Regions from separate parts of the Homo sapiens genome. Here all the other regions are linked to region 1. The links come from fine-mapping of genetic effects on gene expression. A gene starts in region 1. Each other region holds a variant in brackets. All regions are shown on one strand. Distances are from middle to middle. Region 1 holds the start of TXLNB (taxilin beta). Region 2 holds the start of LOC102723690 (a long non-coding RNA gene). Region 3 has its middle 9.1 kb from the start of HECA. Region 4 has its middle 37 kb from the start of CITED2. Region 5 has its middle 26 kb from the start of TXLNB.

Region 1 (5,108 bases):
TTTATGATTTCAACACATGAATTTTGGGGGGACACAAACATTCAGACCATAGCAAGCAGTAAATGATGCAGCCGTATCAAATGAGAGCCCCATGAAATCATAGCAGGCCATATGAATAAAAACTATGTAATAATTTGAATGAATCAAGTGTTGAGGAAATTCCCAAACCACATTGTAGAAGAGTACCAGAAACTCAAAAAACCCAGCAGTCAATAGAGTATTCATGTTGCAAGCAGCAATTTAAGTTCAGCAAAACAATATCTGTCACATAAAAGTAGTGTTATTAATTTGAGTCGCATTTATTGATTTTGTAGGCTTTAAAATGTATACATTTTAAAATTTATGTAACTACTGTAAGCATAAGGAATTTATCCTATTTTCATTTTAGTACATGTAGGTTCAAATAATAATATAATCCTTCAAATAATTTCCACATTATTTAAATTATTCTGTTAAGTGAGTCTATACATTATTTAAATTTGAAAAGCACTGACTTGTTTATATTTACTAAGAGATGTGATCGGGTCAGTTTGCTACAATCCAGGATGGAATGCCACCCAATTTGTGGCACTCACCAAGTATTCATTAATTTAGAAGAAAGTGCTTTTCTCTTTCATCAATTTTAATTCACTAACTTAATTATCAAATAATATAGTGAACAGCTTCATTGTCTTCAACACTGGAATTTCTTTATCCTGACTTCTGCTTGTTGGGTGCACTCATCTATATATAACTTATGCCTCCCCTAAACTCAGAGAATAAGTAGGACAAAACTGGGGGTGGGATGTTTTCATTTCCTTTTGTTGCCATAACATCTTATCACAAATTTAGCAGCTTAAAAATAACATAAGTTTGCTATTTTATATTTCTGGAGGTCGGAAATCCAAAACGAATTTCTTTGATCTAAGATCAATGTCGCAGGATTGCATCCCTCTGGAGGCTCTAGAGTATAATCTGTTTCCTTGCCTTTCCCAGCTTCTAGAAGCTTCCTGACCTATGCTGAGGTCATCAAATCTCCTTTTCTGCCTCCAATCCTACTGCCTTCCTCCCTCATTTATAAAGACCCTTATGAGGCTGAGTGCAATGGCTCACGCTTATAATCCCAGCACTTTGGGAGGCCGAGGTGGGCGGATCATGAGGTCAGGAGTTCGAGACCAGCCTAGCCAACACAGCGAAACCCCGTCTCTACTAAAAATACAAAAATTAGCTGGATGTGGTGGCAGGCGCCTGTAATCCCAGCTACTTGGGAGGCTGAGGGAGGAGAATCGCTTGAACCCGGGAGGTTGCAGTGAGCTGAGATTGCACCACTGCACTCCAGCCTGAGTGACAGAGCGAGACTCTGTCTCAATAAATAAATAAATAAATACCCTTATGATTACATTGAACCCACCCAGTAGTTCAAGATAACCTCCCTACCTCAGGATCCTTCCTCACATCTGCAAAGTCTCTTTTGTCATGTAAAGAAACATATTCACAGGTTCCAGGGAGTAGGACGTGGAGATCTTTTGGGTGGCATTATTCTGCCTCCCACAAGGGATGCCACTATGCCTAGCCTGTCCCCAGAGCAGAAACCGATGGAGGAATCTGCTTTGGAAGTATGGGAACACAAGCTCCAGAAAGAAAAATAAAAGGCAAATGGATGTAAATTAATAGACAGGCATTTTATGGTGAATCAGAAGGAATTTCTTTTTCTGAGGAGGATCAAGGAGCATGTTGAGGATTTACAAAATGTGGGAAAGCCACCAACTAAGGAAGAAAAAGCAGACTGCTTCCCTGAGGGTTTGTTTGAGATGGGAAGAGTTACCTGGGAAAGACTGTGCTCCAAGGTCACACCAATTACCACGTGCATGAAGATTATACTCAGTTCAGCTCCAAAATCACCATCTACATGTTTATTTCAAACTTTGCAAACAAACCAAACAATGACATCAGAATTAAAATGGTTCCACCACCTCCCTGTTCTTATGCCATTGTTTTTCTTTTTCCATGATTCCTGTAAGAAACCTGACACTAATTAAGCTAGTGCAAGAAGAAGAAGAAAAAGAAGATGAATCTTCCACCACACTGGAGATAACCCAAGAAGTAAGAAAAACTGATCTCTACCCAAAAAGGACAACAATGGTGAAAGACTGCATTTGCAACGGGGGTAATATACTCAGAGTTTAAATTTCCGAAAGGACAAACAAAACATGGAGAGTCTAATGAGATCTTCCAGCTGCTTCTCTCTGCTAAGGTATTTCCCCTGGCAACAGCTAGGGAAGCTTGGGTGTATTTTCCCCTTGCTGTGTCATATGATGTTCCTTTCCCTACCCCCACCTCCTCCAGACTGCTGCCTCCATCAGTGCCTGTGGCGTGTGTGTGTGTGTGTGTGTGTGCGCGCGCGTGCGTGCACGTGTGTATGTGTGTGTGTGTGTATTGGGTTTCTCTCTCCCTTGTAAGAACACAGCCAGCCCGCCCTCTCCTGCTGTTGCTGCAGCTCTGACTTGCTTTTTCCTGCCTCCTTCCTCTCCTCTCTCTTCTTGCTTAGCTTCTTGCCTTCTGGTAAGTATGACAAACACTCCCCCAAGCCCTGTGAGAAGGTATAGGGTGCGGTTTGTGGTGTTCGAAACTTGCAACTTTGAGATTGCCAGTGAACTGTTGGAGAACTTTTCATTGTTGTATTTATAAATAAAATGTGTTGCTTAGGGAGGGATGTGTCTGTGATAGTCATCTGGAATAGCCAACACAAGTGAAAAGTTCTCTCCCTGGGGAGGGGAAAATAAGGCAATAAAGTTTATATAAGATAAAAGTTAGAAATAATTTCTTTGCCACATAATATAAAATGGATGATTGAAAAGTAACAAAGTTCTCTGACTTTGTTTTTTTCCCTCTTGTTAACTTGTCTTGAGGCTACTTTTGGGAATTGAATTGTCCTGGGCTTTATAATGACTGTTCTGTTTTAAAGTAAATGTGGAACAGGAGTTTAAAGAATAGCCATGGAATTAAGAATTTAAAAAATCAATGATTGTGGCATCTCATGAAGAATAAATCAAATACAAACAGCCACTTGCATTTAGACTAACCGAAGTAAAACTCCTATGGACAGCTTATCTTAAATTAATTATTTTGAAGTTCATTTTACTTGAGATTTTATTTCATCCTAAGATAGTCTCCCCGACTTTAAAACCCATGTATGGATTTAAGCCACTAAATGTTTACTGTTTTCAATTTGACTGAAAAACGATTCTCTTGATTTTCAAGGATGAAGTGCTAAACGGCATGACTCATTTTAGAATAGCTTAAAATAACTTCTGGCTGGACAGCAGGTGCCGTGTGTCTTTCTCCGTGTTCAGGGGAGGCCTAAGTTATATATAGATGAGTGCAATCAACAAGTGAGGTCAGGAAAAGAAATCCCAGTGATGAAAATAATGAAACTGCTGCATTATTTGATAATCAAGTTGGTGAATTCAAACCAGTGAAAGAAAAAAAGTACTTCCTCTAAGTTATGAGTGTTTGGTGAGCATCACAAGTCAGTGGCAACATCTGTGTGTTGAATTTTCTGTTCTTGTTGGTGTCTGAGCATTCAATTGACATCTACTGCCCTGAGAACAGGAAAAGGAAGCTGTGCAGTTGTAGAACAGTATGCTTTTGTTTTCACTTTCATGTTACCACAACAGCAAAACCTGTGAATTATGAGGATCTTGCCACATTTTTATGCTGCTATTTAGCAGCATCACTGTTAAATATTATTTACAAATAAAATGCACCATAACTTAAAGGCCTAAACCAAATCTATTGCAACTCTAGAAGTGGTAATAGTCAGAAACCCTGGAATCTCTGACTCAGTACCATCTCTCACCCTTTCCTAAGGGCCCTTATTATTGCTGAATTATTTCTCGAGTTGGTCTCCTCCTTGTTTATGAAACATTGCTACTTCTTAAAAATCATTAAGTTTTTCTAGAGCTTCCTGACTTAGAAGAGAAAGTTGTAATCTGTTTTTCTCTTTTAAAAAATTGGTTTATATATTGGAATAAAAGAGTATTATAGAAATTTAAGGAATTGTTGTTATAAGTATCATCATGCTTTTGTTTTGTTTAGTTTTTGAGACGAAGTCTTGCTCTGTCACCCAGGCTGGAGTGCAGTGGCACGATCTTGGCTCACTACAGCCTCCGCCTCCCAAGTTCAAGCAATTCTCATACCTCAGCCTCCCAAGTAGCTGGGACTACCGGTGCCCGCCACCACACCTGGCTAATTTTTGTATTTTTAGTAGAGACAGGGTTTCACCATGTTGGCCAGGCTGGTCTCCTGGCCTCAAGGATCCACCCGCCTCGGCTTCCTAAAGTGCTGGGATTACAGACATGAGCCACAGCACCTGGCCCGTGTTTCCATACTACTTTGTCTATTTATTTATACCTTCCCTCATTCCCTGTCTTAATCTAAAAATGATGCCAGTTTAAGCCTCAAAAAAAGCATTCGTGTTGCTTATCTGAAAAAGAAAATGCCAGAAAAGTGAGAAATGTCTCCTCTATCCAGTGTAATAATGCATTTACATCAAAATATTCACACTAAGCAAAATATTGATTTATGGATCAAATAGAGCTTAGAGATGTTATTCTTATGAGTTATTTAAATAAATTCAATGGCTCTTCTATTAAATATTTTAACTTTGAAAGAAAACTAATACCACTTTATATTTAAACATTTTAAATATATACAGTCATGTACCCCCAGTGATTGTTAATCTACATAGAATTATACAGGAAAATGGTAACACAAACTGACTAGTGTAAGCAAAATGACAAATATGGCCACAAAGAAAAATAGCATGAATTACTTTCTTAATGTGAATAATAAGGAATGCTACTGAAAACTGAAGATCAAAACCAAAAATATGCCAGCAGTGTGACTTGATTTGGAAAAACAACTTTCCACTGTCCCTACTTTAATAATTGTAATGCAGCAGGACAAGCCGCAGACAAAACCCTTCAGACACCCAGTTAAAGAAGGAAGCAGTTTAATCGGCCGGGAGCGTCAGCAAGACTCCTGTCTCAAGAGCCGAGCTCCCTGAGTGAGCATTTCTTGTCCCTTTTAAGGGCTCACAACTCTAAGTGCGTGCACGTGAGAGGGTT
Region 2 (5,108 bases), 23 kb after region 1:
CACACCAGGTCTACAACTCCATAATAATGCTGCCAGATGTAACAAATAAAAATACAAAGTTTACGTTTCAGACAAACAACAAATAACTTTTTGGCAAAAATATGTCTCATGCAATATTTGGAATATATTAATACTTACGCTAAAAATTATTTCTTATTTATTTGAAATTTAAATTTAACTGGGTGTCCTGCATTTTACTGACAACCCTACCCTAGAACTTCAGCATCCAAGATGGAAAGTACAGCGGTAAGTTGGTTTCATGTTCCAAGGCAGTCCTGATACAGTACTTTAGTTGTGGCTGCTGGAGGAACATGAGAAGAGTTCAACTGGGCTCAGCAGAAACCAGCAGAATGATTTATTTGTTATAAGCACAGAGCGGGTGCGGGTGGGGAGCAACAAGGCGTGTTACAGATATTTGCTATTCATGCTGTTGAATCATGCAGAAGCTATTTCTGATGCTTTGGTGAAAACCCGTCAATGCTTAGGTAGTGGAAGGGTACTTTCTCTTCTCCTTTCCCACACATAAACAATCCACACTCAGAGCCCAACATTATAAAGAAGAGAACTTCATCTTCTGTTTACCAGGAGGCTGCATTTCTCTTTCCTATTTTTAAAAATAGCGCTAGAAGCTTGTTTCAAGGAAGAATTAGGAAAACTCAATGCAACCCAAGCAGACAGACTTTAGATCATTGCCTCAATGCAAGGCATCGTCATGAACTCTGGCAGTTTACAGATTCTGAGACATGCCTTTCTATTTTGTCTGGCTATTCAATATTGGTTAGATAGACTCAGGAAAAATATTTCTAGACCATCCAAAAATAGATCAAAGTAAAAAGAGACTAATAATAATGAAAAACCTATCAATGCTGTGTTCTAAAAACTATATACCTTCAAGTACTACAAAGGTGACGTTTGTGAATTTCATTTACTTCCAGAGGAAGAGATAATAGCAAAAAATGTTTCCAAACAACCACAGAGTAATCTTTAGGTTTGCTTTTTTTCTATCCACTCCAAGGAGATCCCTGCCATTTTCTTTCATGTTTGTATCTCCATGTGTACAGCTGGATGAACATCGTACTGAGCAAAAGAAGTTAAAGCTCCTCCAAAAGAAACAGGTACAAATTCAAAAAGAAAAGGACCAGTTACAAGGTGAACACAGCAGAGCTATCCTCGCTCGAAGCAAATTGGAGAGTCTGTGCCGGGAGCTGCAGAGACACAACAAGACTCTGAAGGTATGTCCCCATGCCTCAGAATAACATAATTTCTTGAATGGGGCACAGAGACAGGCCTCTGCTACTCATGGAAAGAGTGTGAATTTTAGAATCAGAGAGGCTTGGGTTCAAATACTGCCTCTGCCCCTTGCTTGCTTGTAACCTTAAATAATTTTACCTCCTTGAGCTACTTTCTTCATCCGTAAAATGGAGATTAGACCAGCTTCACTGTGTGGCTGGGAAAAAATTAGATGAAGTTGAATAGGTAAGGTACCCGCACAGTACCTGACACAGTGCAGGCCCTTGATAAAATGCATACCATTCCCCTTACCTTTCTATTATGTTGAGTTTGTTTCTAAGGTGGGCCTTAGTTCTTTTAAAAAAATACATTTGTAAAGATTCAGCATTTTTGGTGTTATAATGAATTCTGCATGACATGAGACAAATGGACACACACCGAATTGACACAGTGAAGTGAGATTGAGAACCAAAATGTCAATAGTCATCTGAAAAAAAGGAAGCTATTGGAAAAAGCACTGAAGCTCTTCAGGTTTAATTATTCAATCTAAAAATAATAGACTGATCACTTCATTTGGTCTGCACGGGTTTCATTAATTACAGCGTAAGCCCTAGCAGTGTGGTTAATTTGATTACACAGAGACACTAGCTCCATTCAATATAGCAAGATGCAGAGCTCTCCAAGATGATACTGTGTGCATCCCCAATCCCCTTTCCAGCTGAAGATCCTAAATCTTTTGACAAATAATAATTAATCAGACACCAGTGTTCCTGTAAGGTAGTTATTATTATAAGCGTTTAAAAGGAGATACTTCAAGAAACAGAGTACATGAAAATCACTGCTGAATTTGTACAATTGAGTTAGGAAGAAAAATAGAAGAGAATCATGGTTCCTCATTTTCCCAAATTGTTTTTTGATATTTGGGAAATGGAGAACCAGTGTGATGAAGTCAAAGTCTCAAATGGCAGGTTTTAGATGTGCTACTGGCGTCTTGTCAACAATAGTACTGAAGACAGACTCCCAGGCCGAATGGGGGCCTGAGGATGGAAGCATCGTCCTCAACTCAAGGTTTGGATTCAAAGGATGCATAAATCTCTTGTGTGCCTGCGTAAATCCACTGTCTGTCAGTAATGTTACACAGTAAGGAGATAAAATTAAATCAGATAGGGTGGGATCATTTATCAACAAAGAGATATAAAGAGTAGAATGATACAGCGTGGTCTTCTTGGGTAGTATTGAAAGACAGAATGTTCAGCTGGTCACAGTGGGTCACATCTGTAATCCTAGCATTTTGGAAGCCCAAGGCCGGAGGATCACTTCAGCTTGGGAATTCGAGACCAGCCTGGGCAACATTTATGAGAGCAAGAC[A/G]TTGTCTCTACCAAAAATCAGGAAAATTAGCTGAGTGTGGCACGTTCCTGCAGTGCCAGCTACTTGGGAGGCTGAAGCAGGAGGATCATTTGAGCCCAGAAGTTCGAGCCTGCAGTAAGTTATGATTGCGCCACTACACTCCAACCTGAGTGACAGAGAGCAATGTCTCAGAAAATAAAGAGAGAGAGAGAGAGATCTTATTAATACCATCCAACTGGCTAGAGATTCTCCCCCACCAAAAAAACAAAGACAGAATGATCAAAGTAGCAGGAGACCCTGTAAGTGTGCCCATATGCCCTCAGTAATGGCTTCTCATTATGAACAATGACATTAAGTATTATTATTATGCCAGAAGTTATGCTAAGTGCTTTATATACATTATTTCATTTAATCTTCATGATAACCCAGTGAAGGTTAATATCTCCACTTTATTGGTGAAGAAACTGACACTCAGCAATCCAAATTGGTTGTCCAAGATCAAGCATATTTAAATGTCAAAATCAATATTTGAAATTTGAATTCAAATTCAAAATATTTTCAAATTTTCTTTCTAATTTTTTCTTTGACCCAGGGATTATTTAGAAGTGTTATTTAATTTTTATAGCCGATCATACATGGTCTTATCTTGATACCATATGTACTTCAAAACAATGTTTTTCAGATGTTGGGTGTAGTGTTCTATAAGTAACAATTAGCTTTAAATCATTTATGCCTTTTTTGAATTTTTTTATCAATTGCTGAGAAATGAGAGTTAAAAATCTCTTCATATAATTGTGGAATTGTCCGCTTATTTTAATTATGTCAATTTCTGCTTTATGTACTTTGAAGCATTAATATTAGGTGTATATACATTTATGATTATTATGTCCTCTTGATGAATTGGTGATTTTACCTTTATGAAATGTCCCTTAGTAATCTTTTTTTTTTTTTTTTTTTTTGTGAGATGGAGTCTCGCTCTGTCGTCCAGGCTGGAGTGCGGTGGTGCAATCTCGGCTCACTGCAACCTCCGCCTCCCGGGTTCAAGCAATTCTCTGCCTTAGCCTCCTGAGTAGCTGAAATTACAGGCACCCGCCACCATGCCTGGCTAATTTTTGTATTTTTAGTAGAGACGGGGTTTCACCATCTTGGCCAGGTTGGCCTTGAACTCCTGAGCTTGTGATCTACCCGCCTCGGCCTCCCAAAGTGTTGGGATTACAGGTGTGAGCCACCACGCCCGACCAGTAATAATCTTTGTCTGGATGTCTACATTATCTGATATCAATTTAGCCACTCTAGTTTTCTTACTCTTATTGTTTGCCTGGTGTATCTCTTTTCATCCATTCATTTTCAGCCTGGGTCTTTATATTTAAAGTGCATTCTTTCAAGATAGCATATAGCTGGATCTTACTTCTTTTCATTCCTACAGTATCTGCCCTTTAATTGCAGTACTAGTCCATTAACATATAATGTACTTACTGATGTGGTTTGATATATGTCTACCATTTTATTATTTATTATTTGTCACCTCTGCTTTGTTTATCTTGTTCTTTTCCTGCCTTCCTTTGGATTATTTGAATATTTAAAAATTACATTTCATCTCTTGTATTTTGAAATTATAACACTACACATTATCTTTAGTAGTTGCTCTGTGATTACAATATACATTCTTAATTTTTCATAGTCTTCCTGGAGTTAATGTTGTATTACTTCACATAACATGTAGAAACACTGCAACTAAATAGATCAATTTACTCCCTCAGCCTTTAAGCTATCATCATTATATGTATTATATTTATATACTTTTGTAAAGCCGATGAGACATTGTTATAATTTTTACTTTAAACAATAATATGTATTTCTTCTTAAATTAAAGGCAAAACTATATCCCTTTTATCTACCCAGATGTTTACCATTCCTGATACTTCTTATTCATTCTGTAGCTTCACATTTCTGTCTGATGTCATTTCCCTCAGCCTGAAGTACTTCTTTTAGTATTTCTTATAGTACAAATCTGCTGGTAATCAATTCTCTTAGTTGCCTTTTATCTTTAAAACATCTTTATTTTTTTTTTAATTGAAGGCTAAATTCATTGGATATAGAATTCTGCATTGAGAGAACCTATTCGTGGGTTTTTTTTTTTTTTTTCCTTTTAGCCTTAAATAAATGTGCCACTATACTGGCTTTTAAAATTTCTCATGAAAATCAACAATCATTTGAATTATTGTTCCCCCATATGTGATATGTCCTTTTTCTCTGCCCTTTTCAAGGTCTTTGTATTGATCTTTCGTTTTCAGAACTTTTACTGCTTTAAGGCCAGGAGTGGTTTTTTTCACATGTACCCTACTTGGTATTTGCTAAGCTTTTTTGTATCTGTAATTATATGTCTTTTACCAAATTTGAATTTCTTTCAGCCATTATTTCTTCAAATAGTTTTTCTGCTCCACTTTCTCTCCATCTTCTTCCCTTCTAAGATTCTAACTCTGTGTGTGTAGACCTTTTGATATTGTCCCACAGGTCTTCGAGTCAGTCTT
Region 3 (5,108 bases), 170 kb after region 1:
CTTCCTCCTTTATTTCTACTTGGAATGATTTCTACCAAGAATATCCTGAGGAACACTAGTTATATAAGACGTGCCTCTATTTCTGTGGTAAAATAAGTCTAGGAAACACTGTATATTGTATGAGTCACAATATATATTAGCATAGTAAAGATCCTAAAAGTCCAGCAGTAAAGAAACCTGTTTACTCTCAACTTAGAATTTCCCAAATGTATATAACCTATAAATCCTTTTACATGTAATGCTTATTAACATTCTACGGAAGTAGAGTCCTGCTGAATATTTTTAGGGGAAATAATGCCTTGGAACAACAACAACAAAAATCTACTTCTAGCTGGGCACAGTGGCTCACACCTGTAATCCCAGCACTTTGGGAGGCTGAGACAGGCAGATCACTTGAGGTCAGGAGTTTGAGACCAGCCTGGCCAACATGGTGAACCACCCCCGCCATCTCTACCAAAAATATAACAATTAGCTGGGTGTGGTGGTGCACTCCTATAATCCCAGCTACTCGGGAGGCTGAGGCAGGAGAATCTCTTGAACCTGAGAGGCGGAGGTTGTGGTGAGCCCAGATGGTGCCACTGCACTCCAGCCTGGGCGACAGAGTGAGACTCCATCTCAAAAAAAATAAGGAAGAAGAAAAAGAAAAGAAAACAATCTACTTCTGGCACTAGCAATCAGGTGAGTATTGATACAATGGTGAAAAGACAGATACTGGATCCCTCTTGTAAACAACCAGTTCTTTAGAAAACTTCTTGGGAAATATCTTCAAAACTATAAAACGGAAACTGTCAGAAGATATAATACATTAAGTACTAATTCTAAATGATGTAAACAGTTGAACATTCATGGTATTGCTTCCATTTTAAGAAACTTCAAATATGCTGTAATTGTTATAGGTAACAAAAATTTACCATCACATGAACAATCAGTTTCACATTTAGTCCAGTAATAAGTACTGCTATGTATGGTTCTGGAGTTCATTTCAATCAATCTCGAATAGAATTTTGTCTTAAGATTTCCTTTCCTCCTGCAGAATATTTGTTCTAAGTCCTTAAATGCAAACATAGCACTGCATGGATTAAAGATGAACACAAATGTGCTACTCCTCTCTTCAAAAGGTGGAGTCTGTTTGCCTTCCCCTTAAATCTAACCTGGCCTTGTGACTTGCTTTGACCAATTAGAAATGCAGCAAAAGTGCAATTGCTCTAGTCTGGACCCTAAATTTGCTTTTGCTCTCCCAAAAGCCAGCCACCATGCTGCAAAGAAACTTGAGCCAGACTATGGAATGATGAGAGGCCACATGGAGAGGGTGACAAAGACTCCGTCCTTGACCAAACTTGAGTCAGGCCCCTCTGATTCCTCTTTTTGACTAGGCCCCAACCTTGCCTCGTCCTTGGCCTGCTTAGTTCCGTTTTAGCAAGAATCTTGCTGGGTCAATTTCATAAAAATCCCCAACTTTCCGTATGAGATCAGCCTGGCCTGCCTTCAGCAAGAATCCTCTCAAGTCAGTTTGGCCACAATCCCCCTAACCTTGATGTTTCCTCTTAGTAACTGTCTATCCACTGACTCCCACCCCTGCTCCTTGGCTACAAATCCCCACTTTTCCTTGTTGTATTTGGAGTTGAGCCCAATCTCTCTCTCCTAATACAAAACTCCATGGTAGTAGTTCCCCTGAAAAGTTTGCATTACCATCTGTAACAAATGTCATGAATAACATTTTTCTTTAATAAAAGATCATGGACATGTGGAAGATGAGAAAGGATACTTGTGTTCCAGCCCCAGCCAAGCTCTTAGCTTCGTGGTTCTCAACCCCTGGCAATTTTGCCTTCAGGGACATTTAGCAATGTCCAGGGATATTTTTGGTTGTCACTTCTAGCATCTAGTAGGTTGAGGCCAGAGATGCTGCTCAACAGCCTGCAATGCACAGGACGCAACAACAAACAATTATCCAGCCCCGAATCTAGTGCCAAGCTTGAGAAATCCTATCTTAGCTGAATATAGCTGTATGAGTCACCACAGCTTTACCACATGGAACAGATTGCCCGGATGAGCCTAGTCAACCCACAGAATTGTGAGAAATAATAAATAGTTGCTGTTTTAAGCAACTCTTGGGGTAGTTTTAGTGCTGTGCTGTTGCTAAACTGGCTGGGAAGGGATGTGGGAGGGAACTCTGATTTGTAGCATTTCTAGTTGCCCATGGTATAAATACTCCTACTGTGGCCAGTTTTAGGTTATCAGCACAAGCCACTGAACTCAAGGTTGGGAAGAGATGTGCACAACCAGCTCTTATGAGCCAATGGGAAATGATTAAATTGTTATATTATAGTAGGCAACGGAGGCAACATCCCATGTACAAGATCTTCTTATGCCTGAAATTCTAGGTATGGCCACTTCCTATATGCTGTTGATCACCTAGTCATAGTTCTCTACTTCTATATTGTGTTAACATTTCTACTAGAAAATTCTATTTTAAGTGCTGACATACTGATTCTGCAGCCTTCCTGGTTTGGGCCATTTTTTTGCACCATTAAAGTTGCCAAGTTGGGTTTAGCCAACAGTCTCCCACAGAGGATCACAGCATGGACTCTACTCCAAACCAATCCTACCACACTCTCCAATTTGTAATATTGTGGCCCATGGTCTGGTTTGGGTTAAAACATTGCCCTTGGTAATCTGTGGGGTTTCTTTGTAAGAGGAAACACCTGATCAATACCTAAAGGAGCTGCTCAAAAGTGGAAGCCAGGGTGATAAGAGTACCACTGTGTATTGTTTGGACCTACACTACAGTGTGCATTTGTTAAAAAAACAAAACAAAACAAAACAAAAAAACAAACCTTTCCCTTCAAGATAGAGGAAATTCCTTCTAGCATATAAGCAGAAAACATTTGTTATTTCCTAGAGCAGGCACTTCTCAGGTTTCAGGGTAGATGCCAGCTTTAGATCCAATGAAGAGTTATTATAGTTT[T/C]GTGGTTAGGGGCGTGTGTACGGAGCCAGACTTTCCGAGTTGCAGTTTTGGCTTGCTAGCTGTGTGATCTTGGACAAGATATTTGTGAAATGGGGATAATGGTATCTATTTCAGAGTTAAGACTCATAATGTATGTGTAGGGCCTAGCGCATAGTAAGCTCTCAATAAATAGTGGTTGTTATTACCAGGAGCATTTACATTTTATATTCTTTGTCTGTTGCTATTTGCCTTTTTTTCTTTTTAACTGTAAGTGCTATTTAACTTTCTCCTTTTTAACGGTAAACAAGATTTTTTTTTCTAAAAGCAGTACTAGTTCTAGGTCAAGGATAAACTCTTTTCAGCATACAACTGTAGTCTCATCCCAGAACAAACCACACCCCACTTCCTGTTGCATGCAGATACAGATACCTTAAAGGGACAGTTTGTACCAGGGACCCATGCAGGATGCTAAGATTGCAACAGAGCGCACTCTGGTGTACAAAGCTGGGAGCCGGTGGGGAGGAGATTATGAGAAGCAATGCCTTGCCCAAGTTTGAAGTTGATTTGTCCAGCTCTAAGAAGTTATTGTAAGTTACTAGATAAGAATGATGTGATGAAAACATCGTTTTGGAAGAATACTCTGATAGTAACATTCAGGATACATTTGATAGGAAAAGTGGTGACAAGGAAGCCAGCCGAAAATATATTGTATCATCGTTGGGATGAGACGATGAGAATTTGCAGTTAGGGAGTTAAAAGGAGAACCGAGGAAAAGGATCACTATAGGAGACATTTTAAAGGGAAAAAAAAATCATAGTACTTAAAGACAAAAATTTGATCTTAAAGAAAAGCCATCCCACCATCTTATTCTGTTTAGATCATACCATAAGTTTCAGTACCCACAAATAAATTGCTAGCATTTTCTATTCTAGTAAAGCCTGTAAGTGGAAAAAATAACCCAATATTTGCTATGTTGGTTTGTTCTCTTTTAAAGGACAAAATTAATCTACTATGAATCAAGACTTGAAAGTTCTAGGTGAACATAGCACTTATTCCAAAACTGACCACATAGTTGGAAGTAAAGCACTCCTCAGCAAATGTAAAGGAACAGAATTGTAACAAACTGTCTCTCAGACCACAGTGCAATCAAACTAGAACTCAGGATTAAGAAACTCACTCAGAGCTGCTCAACTGCATGGAAACTGAACAACCTGCTCCTGAAGGACTACTGGGTACATAACAAAATGAAGGCAGAAATAAAGATGTTCTTTGAAACCAATAAGAACAAAGACACAACATACCAGAATCTCTGGGACACATTTAAAGCAGTGTGTAGAGGGAAATCTGTAGCACTAAATGCCCACAAGAGAAAGCAGGAAGATCTAAAATGGACACCCTAACAACACAATTAAAAGAACTAGAGAAGCAAGAGCAAACACATTCAAAAGCTAGCAGAAGGCAAGAAATAACTAAGATCAGAACAGAATTGAAGGAGATAGAGACACAAAAAACCCTTCAAAAAATCAATGAATCCAGGAGCTGGTTTTTTGAAAAGATCAACAAAATTGATAGACTTCTAAGAAGACTAATAAAGAAGAAAAGAGAGAAGAATCAAATAGACGCATTAAAAAATGATAAAGGGGATATCACCACCGATCCCACAGAAATACAAACTACCATCAGAGAATACTATAAACACCTCTATGCAAATAAACTAGAAAATCTAGGAGAAATGGATAAATTCCTGGACACATACACACTCCAAAACAAGGAAGAAATTGAATCCCTGAATAGACCAATAACAGGCTCTGAAATTGAGGCAATAATTAAGAGCCTACCAACCAAAAAAAACCCCAGGACCAGATGGACTCACAGCCGAATTCTACCAGAGGTACAAAGAGGAGCTGGTACCATTCCTTCTGAAACTATTCCAATCAATAGAAAAAGAGGGAATCCTCCCTAACTCATTTTATGAGGCCAGCATCATCCTGATACCAAAGCCTGGCAGAGACACAACAAAAAAAAAGAATTTTAGACCAACATCCCTGATGAACATCGATGCAAAAATCCTCAATAAAATACTGGCAAACCGAATCCAGCAGCACATCAAAAAGCTTATCCACTATGATCAAGTGGGCTTCATCCCTGGGATGCAAGGCTGGTT
Region 4 (5,108 bases), 46 kb before region 1:
GAGGCCGGCCTGACCAAACCCCGTCTCTACTGAAAATACAAAATTAGCTGGGCATGGTGGCACATGCCTGTAATCCCAGCTACTTGGGAGGCTGAGGCAGGAGAATTACTTGAACCCAGGAGGTGGAGGTTGTGGTGAGCTGAGATCGCGCCATTGCACTCCAGCCTGGACAACAAGAGTGAAACTTCGTCTCAAAAAAAAAAAGAAAAGAAAAGAAAAGAAAAAAACAGAAGACCAAACTATATGCTGCATATAAGAAATGTACTCTCTCTCCATATATATTTTCTTTCTTCTTGATCAGTCTAGCCAGAGATTGACCAATTTCACTGATTTTCTCAAAGTAACTGTTTTTGGTGTTATTCATTTACACACACACACACACACACACACACACACACACACACACGTTAGATGTTAAAAGACAGAAAAAGATAATCTAGCTAACCTTAACTATAAGAAAGTTGTAGTGACTATATTACTACCAGACATGATAGATTTCACAGCCAACAATATTACATGGGATTTTTCAAGTTTATTTCATAATGATAAAAGGTCATAAACAAATCTAAACATTTATGCACCTAATAATAAAATACATTGAGCAAAAAACTGATAGATCTACAGGAGAGGCAGACAAATTATGGTTTGAGATTTAAATATTCCTCTCTTAATAGAAATGATCTGCTGATTACATTTAAACTGAGCGACTCTGCATTTTCTGGATTCTGGATGGTTGCCTTTCATGAGCCCAATCGAAGAAAGAAAATCCTTGGACCAGATGCTTCACAGCTGAAGCCCGTAGGACCGCGGAAGAATACCTTGAAGATATTGTTTGCATCAAAATCACCCAAATTTATGTCTTCCTTATCCAGGTCCTGCCCACTGTGATAATGAATCGTTTTCTTGGAATCAAAGAGGATGATAAAGACCTCGCCACTTCCTTGATCTTCTCCTCCTCCTTTTGAACCCCAGCGCTGGCTCCATCATGACGATGTGGATGGTACTTCAAGGCCTGTTTCCAATAAGCTTTCTTGATCTTGTCCTCAGAGGCATTCTTGTCACTTCCAGAACCTTGTAGTAATTATCCCTCTTACTCTTCTTCAGTTCCAGCTGTGCATTTTTTAGGAGCTGTTTGTATTCTTTTGTTTTCTCCATCTGATATACTTTTTTCATAGCCTCGCACTGTTTCTTCATACTGTTCTGTGTCCAAGAAACACTGAGCTCTTCTCAAGTAGGCTTTTATGTAAGTGTCATGAGCTTCACTGCATTTGTGCAGCTGTCTATTGCATCATCTAGTTTCCCAAGCTCGGAATTAACCATATCCCGGTTACAGTAGAGTTTAGCAATTGCTTTTATGTTGTCGGGGTCTACCCCGGGGGTTCTGCGTACAGTTCATCAGCTAGTTTGTAATTTCCTTCCCTAAACGCTTTATTCCAGTCTTCTTTCTTTGCGTTAAGTGCTCTGGCATTTCTGCACGCAAGGCAGGCCTTCTCATGGTCAGGAACCACTCTGAGAGCCTGTACAAAAAACTGAACAACTGCCTACTCAGTACAATCTTCATAATAAAGGCAAGGTCCGCGTACATACAGAGCATCCACATTGGTGGAATCCGTTCATAAAATGTCACTGGCCACAGACTGTGCTTCTGGATAACGACCCAGCATTGCTAAACATTCTGCTTTGAGGGATATTGAAGTGATGGCAGACAGGGGCAAATTCTAGGGCATAGTCCATGCAGAAAACAACCTTCTGAAAAGCCCACTTCTCAAAACTTGTTTCTATGACTTTCTCCTATTCCTTGACTGCATTAGCATTTGTGAACTCCTGTTGTGAGTGAGCATTGTTATGATCCAGTTCTAGGGCTCTCTGAAAACTGCAATGTGCTGCCATGGCATTCCCTGGAGAGAGGTGGCACTTGCCCTCTCGTAGATGTCCCCAGAAGAAACCATCATCCAATTTCACTGTGAAAGTATCTCCATGGGCTTCGCAGAACCTTCCAAGTATCATCAATGTAGCTGCTCTATTACTATGATAGCTAGCATTTTTAGGGCACATATCTGTGGCTTTTGTTTAATAGTTATAAGCTTCGTTGTAATCTTCCTTGGCATAGTGTGCATTTCCTTGTTGCTTCAAAGACTGTGCTTCAGTATTTTAAATTACAAACTGGCAAAGCCACCCTCCTTTTATTGAGGCGATCCTGCCTTTTTGTTCTTCTCCATCACTGTCCTGGCAAGCCGTCTTTGCTTCCTCTTCATGGAGCAGCCCTGGCTTGGTTGCC[G/A]CACCACATTGCACGATGGGGCAACTGACAGTTTCTTAAAAAGGAAATTATATCCCTGCCATATGACGCAGCAATTTCACTCCTAGATATTTACTTAAAGGAAAACAAAGTATGTATCTATACACACAAACTTGTAGATGAATATTTATAGCAGCTTTATTTATAACAGCAGAAACCTAGGGAAAGAAGGCTTCAATGTTTATGTTCAGGTGAGTGGATAAACAATTTTTGGTATGCCCATATAACAGAATACAAATCAATGCAAAAAGTGAACTATTGACTCACACAAAACATGGAAGAATCTCAAAATTATGCTGAGCGAAAAAAAATATATTTTTTCTCAGAATGCACACTATATTCCATGTATGTAAAATTCTAGAACACCAACTAATCTACAGTGTTAGAAAACAGATCAGTGGTTGCTTGGGGACTCAGAGGTATGGGGAGCAGGGAGAAGAAGGGGGTATTACCAACGGACATGAGGAAACTTATGATGCATATTTTCATTATCTTGATTATTATGCTGGGTGTATACAAATGTCAAAGCTTTTCAAGGTTTATAGTTTAATTATGTGCATTTTATTGTATGTCAATTTGGCCTCAATAAAGCTGTTAATAAAAATTTTGTCAAGCTTATGTTCCCCAGTAAATGAAATTTACTTCAAGTCACCAACAAAAAAACGTACAAGGTCCATTTTTCCTCTGTTCTGTGTTTACAACTGACAGTTAATATGAAAGACAGAATATCCAAAAATTCTATCTGCTGAGGGCCACAAATTATCAAGTCTCTTGTCAAGGGTGGCCAGCCACTGGTTAGTGGCTCAAGACACAAAATGCAGAACCAACACATTCAACTGACCATGATCATTTCTCCAGGGGTAATCTCAGTTCAAGTGTGCACTTCTGCCAGTCCAGACACTTGCTTCTTTATTATTATCCAAATGCTTGCACACATCTCACAAACTGGCACTAGTTCACCGATGATGATTTGGCCACTTTGGGAGAATTCCATATGTTTCCAAAATTGTCCATCTTACAGTGTTCTTAGAGCAAATGAAGTTTCTCTTCATTAGGACAGTAAAGTCCTAATGTTGAATGTACTATCTTTTTTGATTGGAATAAAGAAGCTTCTAAATAAAATTCTGATTCTCTAATAGCTTTAATTACAAGGAAAGCACCAAAAATCCATAGCTTATTACAGTCTGTCTTTTGATCCTGTGGCAAAGGCCTACCTTGCCTCACGGCTACAGCAGCCACTGCCAAATTCATGGCCGTGTCTGCTGGCACAATTCCAGGGGCTTTCTGGGAGCTCGTGCTACACAATTTTGGCCCTTAACTGAAAATACTCATTTCCAGCAAGCTGGTTTACTCCTGTAAGATCATCTTACCTCTTTGCAAATTACTAGCCATTATTATAACACTTTATACCTTGCTACTTCCACTCTCAGGAAAAGAAGAAATGCAAATAACTTGGGGTTACCTAATTCGTAACACCTCCCTAAAGTTAGATGCCACTTGGGCTAATTGAAATTTGGGGGAAGAAGCCTAAATTGAATGATTTTACCCTGAAACAATGTCTTAAAAATCCTAATTTGGCTAGGTTTATCCTGAATTAGAAGAATTAAATTTGTCATTACCAGGTAGAAATTTAGCATTTATGACAGAAATTAAATTTGGTTATAGAAAATTTTTAAAAATCTCTATTTCATGCACAATTAAGTCATGGACTGATCCATTTACAGCCACTAAAAAAGCATCCACCCCTACTAAGAGGAGGATCCAGCCTCCTGGTCTATCTCATTTGGGCAATGATGGAATGAATCATATAAGCTCCCAGACAAGGGTCTCAAGATAGAATTTAAAATAATTCCACTACAAGGATAAAGGAGATTATAGAATAGATTGGGACAGAAATAGGCATGCTAAGCCAGAATTCACACAGGAGTTCATTTGACTCTAAACCTATGCTCTTTTTTTTTTCTGATGAGATGGTTCAGAGTTTGCGTTTCAACTCACTAGCTTAGAGTCTGAACATTATTGCCTTTTATGTAAAAGAGGGATTATAGCGATCTTAAAGGGTGAGAGAGCCTTTGTAAAGGCCTGACACTAGCGTTTGACTCATTTTATTTAAAATTATAGCTATTTATGTAGCAGAATGTCAGGTGATGTTGTGGAGAAACTGAGGAACCAACCAAAAAAAAAAAAAAAAGGTTATATACCAAATGATCAGTTTTCTGGCCAGAGAGAATTTGTATTGAAATTGGCAAGAAAGAGGCAGCAGGATTTTTGAACTGCCTGTACATGATTAAGTGAAAGTCAGAGGGAGTCAGAAAAGAAATTATACTTGCTTTCACAGCTCCGTTCTACAGCATTCTTCCACCACAAAAAAGCTTGCAGGTGATTTGTTCAGACCAGTTCTAAACGCCTGCAGAGGTAACAGCCCCACCTTTTGGAGATTATTACTTCACCTAACTCTGATGGGAGACAAGCTAATAGGACTTCCCATTAAGAGTAGTTCTGGATACTAAATTTACTCATTTTCCTCTGTAGTCTGATTCCACTTCTTTTTATTTTCACCAATGTTCAGTGATCTTGCTTTGACTTATTGTTGCTGTTGACCTTGACTCATGGCTTCAGGTTATTCTATTCACCATCTACCTGTCCCTAGTTCTTCTTCGCCCCCTCCCTAAAAACTTCCAAAAAACCTTTCTGAGAGTATGTTTCTAAGTAACAGCCTTCCCTGTATGTTACAGCCTCTAAGATTATGAAGTCAACACCGACATGCTTCTTTTGAGACAGATTTCATCATCACAGCAGTGAAAGAAACACA
Region 5 (5,108 bases), 26 kb before region 1:
TGTCTTTTGAAAATGGGAACAATCACACTGCTCACCTCTAGGTTGGTAAAAAAAAAAAATGAGATTATATGCTTAGAAAATTTTCTGCCTACAGAAAATTCCCCAAAAGTGGAGTTTTACAAATTAAGTAAATGATAATCGAAATAAAAAGGAACCCATTTGATTTCCAGTGTCTCGTCTCCAACCCAGTCCCATGAATTTGGATTTTTGGTGATGGTAATATTTTAGTGAAGGAAACTTGAGTTCACTGGCAACAGTTGTGTTCCTCTAGGACTGAAAATATCAACTCATAACGAGCTAGCAAGGAAGGCAATTGTCTCACTGATTTTGTAAATATTCCTTGTGGTTTCCAGAAATTATTTGGAAACAGAAACCTAAAGGAAGAATAGATTAGTGCTCAAAATCGATAATATGAGTAAGAATATAATGTAATTGTCTACTCCCAAATTGATGAATTAGGACCTATGTGTCATACAAAATTTTAGAAAACATATAGGCTTAGTCACCACTTAGAAGTTACTTAAGTAACTTTTATTTAAGGGAAAGAGAAGTTAGAAACCAGGCACTAATATTTATTTTAAAGAGTTAATAATTTAATACCACATTGGATTTTAATAACTTTAACAAATTATAATTTAAAACAAGATATAAAATACATATTCAATAACCACTACAAATTAAGAGATATTTCAGTTATTTATATATATATGGCCATAAGCTAAATATTTATAAAGTAGTAGAAATGTATTTTTAATAACTTTTTTTTTACTTTTTATCCACTTCACTATGCTGTGTATTGCTAATCCTTTCTAAATGTCTCATTTCCTGTTGTAATTGTTAAATACTATAAATAGTCATTTATTAATTCATGTGAAATACTCATTTAAAAGGATTTACTTGTTCTCATGTTGCTCCTTTTACTTATTTATTTTTTTAGAGACAGGGTCTCACTCTGCCACCCAGGCTGGAGTGCAGATGGCACAATCATGGCTCACTGTAGCTTTGACCTCCCAGGCTCAAGTGATCCTCCTGCCTCAGCCTCCCAAATAGCTGGTACACAGGTACATGCCACCATGCCCAGCTAATTTTTGAATTTTTTTTTGTAGAGATGGGTTCTCCCTATGTTGCCCAGGATGGTCTCAGACTTCTGAGCTCAGCCTCCCAAAGTGCTGGGGTGTGGTATAAACCACCACAGCTAGCCTTATATTGCTCCTTTAACAAAGGAGGTGTGGTCATGCCACTGCACTCCAACCTGAGTGACAGAATGAGACCCTGTCTCAAAAAAAAAAGAAAGAAAGGAAGGATGGGTGCAGTGGCTCACACCTATAATCCCAGAACTTGAGGAGGCCAAAGCAGGCAGATCGCTTGAGCTCAGGACTTTGAGACCAGCCTGAGCAACATGGCAAAACCACATCTCTGCAAAAAAAAAAAAAAAAAAATTTTAAAGGGAGAAAGACATTGGCTGGGTGTGGTGCTCATGCCTGTAATCCCAGCACTTTAGGAGGCCGAGGCGGGCAGATCACGAGGTCAGGAGTTCGAGACCAGCCTGGCCAACATGGTAAAACCCCGTCTCTACTGAAAATACAAAACATTAGCCGGGCATGATGGTGCGTGCCTGTAGTCCCAGCTACTTGGAGGGCTGAGGCAGGAGAATCTCTTGAACCCAGCAGGCTGAGGTTGCAGTGAGCTGAGATCGCGCCATTGCACTCCAGCCTGGGTGACAGAGCAAGACTCCATCTCAAAAAAAAAAAAAAAAAAAAAGGAAGGAAGACAATCTAATATCCTGAACAAAGCTTTAATCTCTTAAACTCAAAAAAAGGCTAACTACCATTTGTGAATTCATCATTTTAGTTTATTCATTTATATCAACTAATATTTATAGAGATTGCTACATCAATCAATTTTAATGTGGATTTATTGGCAACAAATACACTCATATTTTGTCTGGAAAAAATGTCTTTACCTTCAGATGTTTGCACTGCTTATAGAATTCTAAGTTGGTTAGTATGCTAAAAATATCAGTCCATTGTCTTCCATTGTCATCTAGCTTTCATCAGTTTGTTTCTGCTTGGAAATAATGTGTTTTGTCCTCTGGATGCTTTTAACATTTTCTCTTTGTCTTTGGTTTTAAGCAGTTTTACCAAGGTACACACCTTGGTACCTTGATGTGCTTGGGTTTTATAGAGATTCTTGAATGTTTGACTTGATATCTTGTGTCAGTTTTGGAAGCTTCTCAGCCAGTATCCCTTCAATTATTGTTTATCTCTCATTCTCTTTCTCGTTTCCTTTTGGGGATCTAATTACACATACGTAAGAATTATCACCACTTTTCATATATCTCTTCTTCTCTTATATTTTTCATCTTTTTAATTTCATATTTCTTATTTAGCAGTTCCATAATCCTTTCTTTTCTTTTTTTTTTTTTTTTTTTGAGACAGAGTCTC[A/G]CTCTGTCACTCAGGCTGGAGTGCAGTGGCGTGATCTTGGCTCACTGCAAGCTCTGCCTCCCAGGTTCACGCCATTCTCCTGCCTCAGCCTCCCAAGTAGCTGGGACTACAGGCACCCGCCACCACCCCCAGCTAATTTTTTGTATTTTTTAGTAGGGACGGGGTTTCACTGTGTTAGCCAGGATGGTCTCGATCTCCTGACCTCGTGATCCATCTGCCTCGGCCTCCCAAAGTGTGGGATTACAGGCGTGAGCCACCGTGCCCGGCCCCATAATCCTTTCTTTTACTGTCTAATATGCTGTTTAGATCATCTGATGAGATCTTTTCTTCTGTTTTTTAAATTTTTTAAAAAATTCTCACAATGTTGCCCAGGCTGGTCTCAAATTCCTGGCCTCAAGTGATCCTGTTGCCTCAGTCATCTGATGAGATCTTAATTTTGATTATTTGTATTTCTCAACTATAACTTTCATTGGATCATTTTTATAGATTCCAGTTCTGTGGCAAAATTTTATATTTATAAATCTATTTTCTTAACTCTATTATTACCATTAAAAAGCCTCTGTCTTGGCCGGGCATGGTGGCTCACGCCTGTAATCCCAGCACTTTGGGAGGCCGAGGCGGGAAGGTCAGGAGATCGAGATCATCCTGGCTAACACGGTGAAACCCTGTCTCTACTAAAAATACAAAAAATTAGCTGGGCGTGGTGGCGGGCGCCTGTAGTCCCAGCTACTCGGGATGCTGAGGCAGGAGAATGGCATGAACCTGGGAGGCGGAGGTTGCAGTGAGCCGAGATTGCGCCACTGCACTCTAGCCTGGGCCACAGAGCGAGACTCCGTTTCAATAAAAAAAAAAAAAACCTCTGTCTTTATAACTCTAATATATAGGCCATCTATTGTTTCTGCTTTAGTATTTGCCCATTTTTTTTCCTGTCTCTTGGGATGTCTGGTAATTTTTTACTTAATGCCAATCATTGTGTATGATGAGTTACAAGATCACTGGATAATATCTTCTTTTAGAGATGACTTTTTTTTTCTAAAAGACAGAGAAGCTACACATCTTGATCCAATCAGTGACTGAACTAACTAAAATATAAGAGGTCCTTGGAAATGTCTGAACTCAATTTTTGTCTCTCTCAAACACTGTGAAACTATCTCAAGTTCTGCTTGATTTCTCAGCCTCTTAGCTTCCACTTTCTGCTTTATCGCTTATATTCTCACACTGGAACCTCAGGAATAATCAGATTCCCCGAGGGAAAAAAAGAGTTGCAGAATATCCAACCCACTTTTCTGCAATTCCCTTTTCTCCAGTCTTGGATCCTCAAGTACATGACTAGTATTGAACTCCAACCTTTGCCTCCCCAGCCTTGTGAGCCTTAACTGTTCTAGGCCTTTCCTTCTGCTTTTCCTCTCACCTGGGCCACTTACATATTGAAAAATGGCTTGAAAGGACAACCCACAAAGAATGTGAGGTTTACCTCAATGCATTTCCCCTGACTCCAGAATTTGTACCATTAATTGCAGCAGTCTTAGTTGTTCTCAGATGTCTCCAAAAGCTGTTTTTTAAAAAATACTTTTTACAGGCTTTTTTGTTATTCTTGTGTTAAAGAAAAGATTGTTCAATGATACTTGTTAAAGCACAGTAAGGAAGACTTTATTCAAGATCAGCAACATATGTTTAGGGACCACTGCAACAGGGTCTTGTAGTATGAAAGATTGGGCTCAATTCCAAATACAGCCTGGGCAAGTGGGAATTTATAGCTAAGAAATAGGGTAGAGGGTCTGTGATAAGAAAAAAAAAATTACTAGCAGAAAACATCAGGGGTAAGGGAATTCTGACTAAACCAACCTAACAGGATTCTTGCTGAAGACAGGCCAGGGTGATCAAACATCACCTGTGGTGGGAGGGGAGGGATAAGAAACCTGATCATATATCAAAGGTGATCAGATATTAAAGGTGGGGGTTCTTGGTAAAATGACTTAATAGTGTTCTTTTCTAAAACTGGATTTTATAAGGAAGTGCACAGGTAGGCCTAAGAGAAGGTTCAGGACCCTGACTAAAGCTTAGCCAAGCAAAGAATCTTTGTCCCTTGTCAGAAGAGAGGGCTTAGGCCGATATAACCTACTGCCTCACAGATAGAAGTGGAAATTTTCTAACAAGATTTTTACATTCTTCTCTGTATATTCTTACCAAATATTTTTTCTCCCTGTCATTTTTTACTTATTATTTAAACTTAATGAAGTTTTACTATTATTACTATATTATATAATTTAGTTTTCACATTTCTTATTTATTGAAATCTGTATCATTTTAAATTCTGTATCTTTTTGGCTTGTAACTTCATAATCCAAATTCTCTTTATAAGTTCTCTGTGTCTAAAATAACATCCATTTTAAGTCTGTTGATTAAATGGCTTTATTTCTAAATTTATAAGAAAGTAATTGTGATTTTTTAAAAAGCTGGCCCACATACATTTTATTCATCTCAGCATAAATTATTTTTCTTCTATCATTTGCTTTATTCTCATGAAGAATTTTAAACTCCCTTGTCTGAATATTCATCCTTGCCTCTCACAATTTTTATAATATATTCTACTTAAAGGGAATCTGAAACTCAAACTTGCCTGGGATATTATAAATATTCTATTTGTGTGAACTTTGTATTCAA

What was found. PIP is the estimated chance that this variant, and not a neighbour inherited with it, causes the effect.
Region 2: its variant is fine-mapped to the expression of TXLNB in whole blood (TOPMed, PIP 0.99).
Region 3: its variant is fine-mapped to the expression of TXLNB in amygdala (GTEx, PIP 0.98).
Region 4: its variant is fine-mapped to the expression of TXLNB in monocytes (TOPMed, PIP above 0.99). The same link has a PIP of 0.9 or more in monocytes after LPS, monocytes after Pam3CSK4 and whole blood.
Region 5: its variant is fine-mapped to the expression of TXLNB in whole blood (TOPMed, PIP above 0.99).

The regions. Positions count from the first base shown.
Region 1 is chr6:139,289,354-139,294,461 of GRCh38, reverse strand. It overlaps TXLNB (taxilin beta), which reads left to right and starts at 2,464. Exons shown (of 10, transcript NM_153235.4): 1 at 2,464-2,541. The region is part of intron 4 of LOC102723690 (a long non-coding RNA gene); the gene reads right to left. RefSeq lists enhancers at 3,240-3,489, 3,690-3,749 and a silencer at 3,336-3,630.
Region 2 is chr6:139,266,580-139,271,687 of GRCh38, reverse strand. It overlaps TXLNB (taxilin beta), which reads left to right. Exons shown (of 10, transcript NM_153235.4): 4 at 1,062-1,232. LOC102723690 (a long non-coding RNA gene) reads right to left here and starts at 352. Exons shown (of 5, transcript NR_197427.1): 1 at 139-352; 2 at 1-29. The variant A/G (reference allele first, on the strand shown) is at 2,599.
Region 3 is chr6:139,123,381-139,128,488 of GRCh38, reverse strand. No RefSeq gene overlaps it. Among named protein-coding and RNA genes, the nearest start is that of HECA, 9.1 kb to the left of the region's middle. RefSeq lists an enhancer at 1,356-1,857. The variant T/C (reference allele first, on the strand shown) is at 2,966.
Region 4 is chr6:139,335,219-139,340,326 of GRCh38, reverse strand. It overlaps the pseudogene LOC100129844. Among named protein-coding and RNA genes, the nearest start is that of CITED2, 37 kb to the left of the region's middle. The variant G/A (reference allele first, on the strand shown) is at 2,279.
Region 5 is chr6:139,315,593-139,320,700 of GRCh38, reverse strand. It overlaps a transcript of TXLNB not described here. Among named protein-coding and RNA genes, the nearest start is that of TXLNB, 26 kb to the right of the region's middle. The variant A/G (reference allele first, on the strand shown) is at 2,445.